Linked DNA regions of Homo sapiens: regions 2 and 3 are each linked to region 1. The links come from fine-mapping of genetic effects on gene expression. A gene starts in region 1. Each other region holds a variant in brackets. All regions are shown on one strand. Distances are from middle to middle.

Region 1 (2,752 bases):
ACAAACATCAGGTCTGTCTTTTAGAAAGATGTCATGACCTGGCTTGGTGGTTCACGCCTGTAATCCCAGCACTTTGGGAGCCAAGGGGGACAGATCACTTGAGGTCAGGAGCTCGAGACCAGCCTGGCCAACATGGCAAAGCCCTGTCTCTACTAAAAAAAATACAAAAATTAGCTGGGTGTGGTGGCACTCGCGACTGTAGTCCCAGCTACTTGGGAGACCGAGGCAGGAGAATCACTTGAGGCCGGGAGGCGGAGGTTGCAGTGAGCAGAGATTGCTCCACTGCCCTCCAACCTGGACGACAGAACAGTACTCTACCCCACCGCCCCCCACCCCCCCCCCCACAAAAAAAAGGAAAAAGAAAAAAGAAAGATGCCATGGGCACAAAGGTTGAGCATGAAGGAGAGAAGAGAGACTGGTGGTAGTTACCAGCTTCCTGGTCTGAACCCAGGTAGGCTTCATTCCTCCTCAGCAAAATGAGGGGAGTTGCGTGTATCTCTGTGGTTGTTTTGAGGGTTAAATGAGAACTCAGGTAAAGCGGTGGCACGGAATAATAATAATGTAAAGCATCGTTAGCCTCCATCACAGGCAGTTCGGCCTAGTAGTTAAGTCCGTGGGCTTTGCTTCCTCTTGGCCCTGGGTTTGTGTCCCAGCCATGTTAGGTAGCGTATTTTGAATGTGGGCAAGACAGAAGGATGGCAAGGAAGGGTTGGATAAAAGAGGGTGTGGACAATAAGCTTGTGCCGAGTGGAACGAGTGGCGGTGCCTCTGGTGGGTGATGGACTCTTACTCCGACATGGGTAACTCGGACAGCTTTGGACAGGACGAGGCGGGCCCTGGCAGGAGACTGCGGATGTCCAGGTGACAGTGGATGCCAGTTCAAAACCAGCACTGCTCTCCTCCCGCGCCCAGGAAGAGCCCAGAGGCCCGGGGTGGGCGCTATGGCAGGAAAGAGGGAAAAGGAGGAGGCAGGGCGGGCAGGGGCGGCCCCAGATGTGGCAAACTTGGCGCAGCAGCGCACGGGCGGACAGGGCGGAAGGCCCGCGTCGGGCTGGGAGATGCGCCCTGCCCTGGCCCGAGGACGAAGGAATCCGAGCTGGGGGCCTGGCGCAGAGGGGAAAGGGGGGCGCCAGGGTGGTGAGCGAGATGGAAAGAGAGATGGCAGGAAGCCGGGAGGAGCGCGCGGGGGAGGAGACAGCCGAGGGGAAGGGGAAGGGAAAGGGGCGGGTGGGAAGGGTGGAGAGCTGGAGACAGAAGGCGAGGAGGGCCGAGGGGAGGAGAGAGGAGAGGAAGGGTGGGGAAAGGAGGAGAGGAAGAGAGGACTAAGAGGGGAGCAAGGCGAGGAGGCCGCGGCGGGCGCAGCGGGCACCTGGGCCGTGCTGCCCCCGCGAGCAAGGCGCCGCCATTCCGCTGCTCGGGGCGCCGCCGCCGCCGCCACCGCGCCCAGGGGCCATGCTCCCGCCGCCCCCGCGCCAGCCGCCGCCCCAGGCGCGTGCGGCCCGCGGCGCGGTGCGCCTGCAGCGGCCCTTCCTGCGCAGCCCGCTGGGCGTGTTGCGGCTGCTGCAGCTGCTGGCCGGCGCTGCCTTCTGGATCACTATCGCCACCAGCAAGTACCAGGGCCCCGTGCACTTCGCGCTCTTCGTGTCCGTGCTCTTCTGGCTGCTCACCCTGGGCCTCTACTTCCTCACGCTGCTGGGCAAGCACGAGCTGGTCCCCGTGCTGGGCTCGCGCTGGCTCATGGTCAACGTGGCGCACGATGTGCTGGCGGCCGCGCTCTACGGCGCCGCCACCGGCATCATGAGCGACCAGATGCAGCGCCACAGCTACTGCAACCTCAAGGATTACCCGCTCCCCTGCGCCTACCACGCCTTCCTGGCGGCCGCCGTCTGCGGCGGCGTCTGCCACGGCCTCTACCTGCTTTCGGCGCTCTATGGCTGCGGGCGTCGCTGCCAGGGCAAGCAGGAGGTGGCGTGAGGCCGCCCGCGCCCGCCGCGGCCCCGATCGGGGCGGGGGAATCCCCGGAGACCAGCCTCCTTAATCCCTTCCCCCGCCGCCGCCCCGCGCGGGTGCGCCCTGGCACCCTCTCCCTGCCCTCCAGCGTTTCCACTGTCGCCCGCGCCCGGGAACCCTGACGCTCAGCTCCCGCCCGACGGCAGCGCCGCCGCCGCCCAGAATCCCAGCCCAGAATCCCGACCGCCGCGCCGGACGCGCCGTCTCCCGGGACAAGCGCAGGCTGCGATCCGAGGGGCTGACACACACTCGCAGACGAGCCGCCCCGAGGCGAAACCTCGCGGTTCCTCTTCCCTTCCCTGCTGAGACTAAGACGTGGACAGGGGCCGCGCAGATCCGGGGGAGGCTCCCAAATTGGAACCAGGCTTCTGGCTGCCCCCTTCCCTCCCGCCCCGTGGTCGGAAGAGCACTCCCTTCCCTGGCCCCTCATCCAGCCTCCGGTGCTGTAAAACGCAGGCGCTGGGCCGCGGGCGGAGCTGAGGACAGGCCTTGGCTGGTCCCAGGATGAGCGACGAGTTTGGTTTTAGCTGGGGATTGTGCTGGCATCCTGCGAAGCTCCTCCCAGCCGGTCTCTCTGTGCTCGGTTGTCTTGGGGTGGGGCCCATCCGCCGAGGTGGGGACCGATAGGAGAAGCCGGTGGGTTGTACCCTTACACTTGTGGAGTCTCCTCTTGCCTCTACCTACTCCGCCTTTGTCCTTAAGGTTTTTGCAGGCCAGTGCCAAACACACACTAACTGTCCTG
Region 2 (2,752 bases), 26 kb before region 1:
TTCAGATGGGTGCTTTCTTTCCTCCTCACTTAAGGTGGCACTATTGTTATACCCATTTTACAGATGAGAAAGCTACACCCAAAGTCACACAGCTGGCAGGTGATGGAAGCTGGGACATGAACCCAGGCAGTCTGACCCCAGCACCCGGGCTCTCAAGCCACTGTTATTTTTGTTCCTGCCAGATGGCTGAGGAGGTCTTCTGGGGAAGGTCGGTCCCAGAAGCCTTTCGGAGGCTATCTGCTTCTGTAGATTGTGGAAGGAGCAGGGAGGGATCCAAAGTCAGGACTCCCAAGCTAGCCTCTGTACCCTCTGCACTCCACTGCCCGGTGGAGAATTGGAGCAGGTACTCACCACACTGAAGGGCAGCTCCGACAGACCTCAAATGGGGATGGGGCAAGCTAAGATGCGCCCACTCCAACCTCTTCCACAGCCTTCAGAAAGGGCAGGCGCAGCTCTGCGAAGGTGCTTACAAGGGCCAGTCGGTGATCACGGGCAGCACAAGAGCATGGCAGAGGGTATCCTGGCCGAGGTCCTAAGGCGACATCTGCAGCACGAGGAGGCCCCGGGACTCAGACGTGGCCGCTTCGCAGAACGACGGGGTCCTAAGTGGATCTGGCGGTCGCGTCCCGCTGGCACCCCGGCTCTGACTGTCGCCCTCCGGCTCCCACCGCAGCGCCGAGCTGGGCCGCCGACCTACGTACCTGGTTGCTTGAGGCAGGCCGCACGCAGCCCCAAACTGGTCCGGGCCACTTGGGTCACAGCCGCGGTTCCCGGGAGAAAGCGCTCCCTAGCCCCGGAACAGCCAATCCTCGGCCCTAGCCAGGTATGAGCTCCCAGGCGAGCCTTCCAAACCCAAGGCGGAGTTCCGTGCGCCAATCATCGGTGGGAGACAGGGAGGGGGCGTGTCCATCCCCGCCCCCCGCCTCCGCTGGCCTCGAAAGCGGAGTGCGAAGCTTCCTCAAACCTAATCGGCGGCGGAGCGGCGGTGAGGGGGCGTGTCTGCCCGGGCCCTGCCCACCGCCCTCT[C/G]CGCCCCCGCGCGGCGCCCGAGGCGCCCCCTTCATTGACGTCAGTCCCCAGGGCCAGCGCGGTTTTGCTGGCGCGGGAGCTGGGCGGGGCTGCATTCCTGCCCCAGGGTGCGGCGAAAGCTGGCCCTGCCGGGTACACGTGACGGATGCCCCTTCTCCTGGGCCCGAGGCCAGCGCGCGCGGCACTGACTGCCTTGCAGCGCGTGGCCCTCTGCAGATCCTCAGACTCTGCCGCTCAAGTCCCCTCCCAGCCCACCGTTTGGCTCCGGCTTTGAGGGAGAGGAGGGGGCAGTCTGCTGGAGTCAGACCTTGGGCTTCAAAGCCAGAATGTCGTGGGTTCAAATATTGGGTCATTTGTGCGACTTTGGGCCGGTTACCTAAACAAGACCGTATTTTAAAGTTTGTATGCATTCGGAAATGTTCATTAGTGACCTATGCTGTCCGAGTTCCTTGATAGGCCGTAAACAAGAGAGACGGAAAGACCTATAGCCCTTGTCCTGGGGAGTCTACAGCCTAGTAAGGGAGGCAGGCATTAAACAACCTAAAACATGGAGTATGTGATTACAGTTGTGATCAATGTTATGGCTATAAGAGGATAAATATGGAGGAACCTAAGCTTCCTCTGGGAGGTTCAGGAGGGCTGAAGAAGCAGCATTTAAGCTGAGATATAAAGAAGGAGTTGAAACTGGTCAAATGAAGAGGAGTGGATCTGGGGAGACTGCTTTAAGGAAAGAGGGAAAGGCATTTGGTTGGGCCAGGAGGTAGCTTGGCTCCGGAGGAATTAAATGCGACCCGGAGTAAGGCTAGCAAGAGAGAGCACGGTGGGAAGTAGAAGGCAGAGGCAGGCAGAGAAGGTTGCATGTGATCCTTGGAGGGGTTTAAACAAGGAATGGCATTATATGTACTGTGTTTATGTAACGGGCATTTTATAGTACTTACCACGTACCAGTAGTGTCAGTCAGCACTTTGCAAATTTCATCATCATGACAAGTTTGTGTTTTTAGAAGGTCACTCTGGCTGCAGTTTGGAACTTGGATTGGAGGGGGCAGGAGTGGAGGCAGGGTGTCCAGTAGGCCTCTGATAAATGCTTGTTTTGTCCTTGGAAGATGAAGTGTTTGTGCACTTGTTCAGCAATGCTCAGGAAAGGCTCCTGGGTCTCCCTGACTTCCTTTTTACTTCATAGCTGACCTCTTATCCATTTAAGCTTGATTTTTCTTCTGTAAAAGTTGTGGGTGGGAAGGGGAAGAGCCAGCACATGGGGCTTTGTGAATTCCTTGTTGCAGCGTGAAGGGGATGCTTGGGAGCTATTTGTCCTCACCCCATGATCTCCAGTTCCTCTCTCTGTCCTTCTGCACAAAAACAGCGTAAGTGTTGTTGTGCTGTGGCTAAAAGGGTTTTTTGTTTTGTATTTTTGAGACAGAGTCTCACTCTGTTGCCCAAGCTGGTGTGCAGTGGCACCATCTCAGTTCACTGCATCTTCTGCCCCCTGGGTTCAAGCGATTCTCCTGCCTTAGCCTCCCGAGTAGCTGAGACTACAGGCACGTACCACCACACCTGGCTAATTTTTGTATTTTTTAGTAGAGATGCAGTTTCACCATGTTGGCCAGACCGGTCTTGAACTCCTGACCTCAGGTAATCCACCTGCCTCGGCCTCCCAAAGTGCTGGGATTACAGGCGTAAGCCACCATGCCCGGCCGCTAAAAGGTTTTTTTGTTTGTTTGTTTGCT
Region 3 (2,752 bases), 85 kb after region 1:
GGTGATTATTATTGTTAGCACTGTGCAGTATCCATCTCTTTCTTGATTTTTTTCTCTATTTACTTGCAGTGACACATAGAATGAGATATTAAGTCAGGACTCTTTCTCTTCCAGTATTGACTGAGGCACGAAGACAAAGGTGCCACATGCAGAAGGAGCTGTGGGCAGCACACTGTGGTTGAGAACTGGGGAGATGGCAAAACGGGGTCAGGATCTGGAGATTTGGGAGAAATTTGAGAGAATTTCTTTGTAGAAGGCTATGCTGTGAGTCCCAACCCCTTAGTGCCAACCTGTGAGGGAGGGAGGTTACCCCTCCCCTCAAGCCTGATAAGATGGGCTACAAGGAAACCCCTTGGAGGAGCCTAGGGTGTGTCTCTTGGAGTTTGGGAGGCTCAAGGATCATGACATGAACCCAAGGAGTCTAATGGGAAGGGCTTTGGCTTTCAGCCTGAAAAGGTGTAGCAAAGACAGCAAGTGAAAAAAAACCTGTGTTGGGAGCCAGCTCCTCTTCTATGGATGGTGAAGCAAAGGAGGTGTGCATGTTCTCTGTGGACCAGATGAGGCCATGAGTGAGGGAGATGCAGTCTAGAGCTGCTTTAGTTTCATTCCACTGGAACCACCTGGAAGGGTGGTGGGATTCCAACTGAGGGTCAGGGTGACTGGGCCACAGGAAATCAGACACTCTGGGGAGAAACAGTTAAGTGCACTTGAAACCTTCAGAGGCTCTTAGGATCTCTCTTAGATCTGAATTCTGTTCTCCCAGGCTTCCTCAGACCCCTCCCATAGGTACCTCTTTGCACCTTTCCCATCTGGTTTCCTATCCCGGTCCTTGCATATACTCCTCTCTACTGCCCAAGGTAACAGAGTACCAACCCCCATGCCCCTTCCTGTGTCTTACAAAACTCTGCCATCTCAGGCTTCAGCCAGAGGCTAATGAGGTCTTCCTCTGCCCAGACTTTTGCAGGTTGAAAATTAGGAGAGGGATTTGACAAAGAAGGAAAAGTTTAGGCTTTCTCTACCAGGGCTGTGACCAGTGTTCTACTTACTTAAGGAAAAAAACACCTCACTATCATCAAGGAACCCATAGGATAGAGTAAGGAATGCTCTGCTGCATGTTTTTTCTTCTCTCCTGAGACTTCTCTTAAAAGTGTGCTAAGTCTTCTAACTCTGTCTTCTAGGTCTCTTATAATTGCATCTATATTTTTCATTCTTAATCTCTCTGTGCTGCATTCTAGATAATTTCTTAAGACCTAATTTCTAGTTCACTAATTCTCTTTTCAGCTGTATATAAACTGCTGTTAACCCTATTCTTTGAGATCCTAACTTTTTTTTTTTCAGAGCTAGAATTTCTATTTGGTTCTTTTTCAGACTTGCTATGTCACTTTTTATAGTTACTTATTCCCTGCCAAAATTTTAAAACTTAGACTTAAAAAAAACCCAGACATGTGTGAGAAGACTTTTATTTCTTTAAATACATTAAGCC[T/G]AGTTGGTTTTAGTTTCTACCTGATAATACCCATATTTTATGTACTTTGGGACCTATTTCTGTTGTCCATTGTTTCTTTTATTCTTAGAAAAATAACTCTACCTCCAGCTCAGTGCTACCCAGGCTGTGACCAGGCTGTGATCAACTGTAGCTCTGAAAAAAAAATTAGAATCTCAAAGAATGGGGTTAACAGCAGTTTAGATACAGCTGAAAAGAGAATTAGTGAACTAGAAGTTAGGTCTTAAGAAACTATCTGGAATGCAGCACAGAGAGATTAAAGATGAAAAATATAGATGCAAATGTAAGAGACATAGAAGATAGAGTGAGAAGACTTATCATACTTTTAAAAGAAGTCTCAGGAGAGAAGAAAAAGCATGTGGCAGAGCATTCCTTAAGTGACTCATCCTATGGGTTCTTTGATGATAATGAGGTGTTTTTGCCCTTAAGTAAGTAGAACACTGGTCATAGCCCTGGTAGAGAAAGTCCACAAAGCAGCTTTGTAGCTGAGCTTAAGCAGCTTTGTAGCTGGGTTTATCTCTTGGGGTGGAGATAAACTTTGTGCTGACACCAGCCACCTTGCTGCTCCTTCATCCTTAGTGCAGGGCCTTATGGCCCAAGACGCTACTCAAGCTGCACCTGCATTTTAGGTGTGGGAGGAGAAAGGCTGGAGAAAGGCATACCTTCACATTTAAGGAGGCTTCTTGGCAGTCCTGCAGAATAAACCTCCTTAATCTCATGGACTGGACCTTGCATACCACTCACATGGAGCTGCCAGGGAAGTTGGGAAATGGAACCTCTGAGCTGGGTAGCACTGGGCTGGTTGCGGGGTTCTTTTTCTAAGGAAGACAAGAAAAAGGGAATTTGGAAGGCAACTGGAAGTTTCTGCCACCGTAACTTTGACCGGATCACTTTTCGTCATTGGATTTCAGTTCTTCACCTATAATTGGGGAGAAGGCACTGTTGGCAGTGCCTTCTGTGTTGGGTGGCACAATTCTTCACTGTGCAGAACTGTCCTCTGCCATGTCGGACATTTAGCACTCCCAGGCCGTGTGTGTTAAATGTCAGTAGCATACCTAGGCTCCGTTACCACCACAACAGCCCTGGTCTTTGCTACCTGCTTCTAGGGGACAGTGCTGCTGCCTGTTGTGAACCCCTGGACAACATCGTGGTTCTAGATTTCCCCCTAACAGTGGCATTCTGTGGGAGCCTGTGGTTCTATGATGTTTGGGTCTCAGTAACTTCATCTGCCAAATGGGCAAAGGAAGGAGA

The links.
Region 2: its variant is fine-mapped to the expression of MARVELD1 in whole blood (TOPMed, PIP above 0.99).
Region 3: its variant is fine-mapped to the expression of MARVELD1 in whole blood (TOPMed, PIP 0.96).

The regions. Positions count from the first base shown.
Region 1 is chr10:97,712,425-97,715,176 of GRCh38, forward strand. It overlaps MARVELD1 (MARVEL domain containing 1), which reads left to right and starts at 1,306. Exons shown (of 2, transcript NM_031484.4): 1 at 1,306-2,752. The coding sequence starts at 1,453. The coding sequence ends at 1,974. RefSeq lists an enhancer at 1,618-1,667 and a silencer at 1,978-2,197.
Region 2 is chr10:97,686,415-97,689,166 of GRCh38, forward strand. It overlaps AVPI1 (arginine vasopressin induced 1), which reads right to left and starts at 827. Exons shown (of 3, transcript NM_021732.3): 1 at 352-827. RefSeq lists enhancers at 1-917, 651-1,850, 918-1,871 and a silencer at 814-1,193. The variant C/G (reference allele first, on the strand shown) is at 1,027.
Region 3 is chr10:97,797,457-97,800,208 of GRCh38, forward strand. No RefSeq gene overlaps it. Among named protein-coding and RNA genes, the nearest start is that of SFRP5, 27 kb to the left of the region's middle. The variant T/G (reference allele first, on the strand shown) is at 1,484.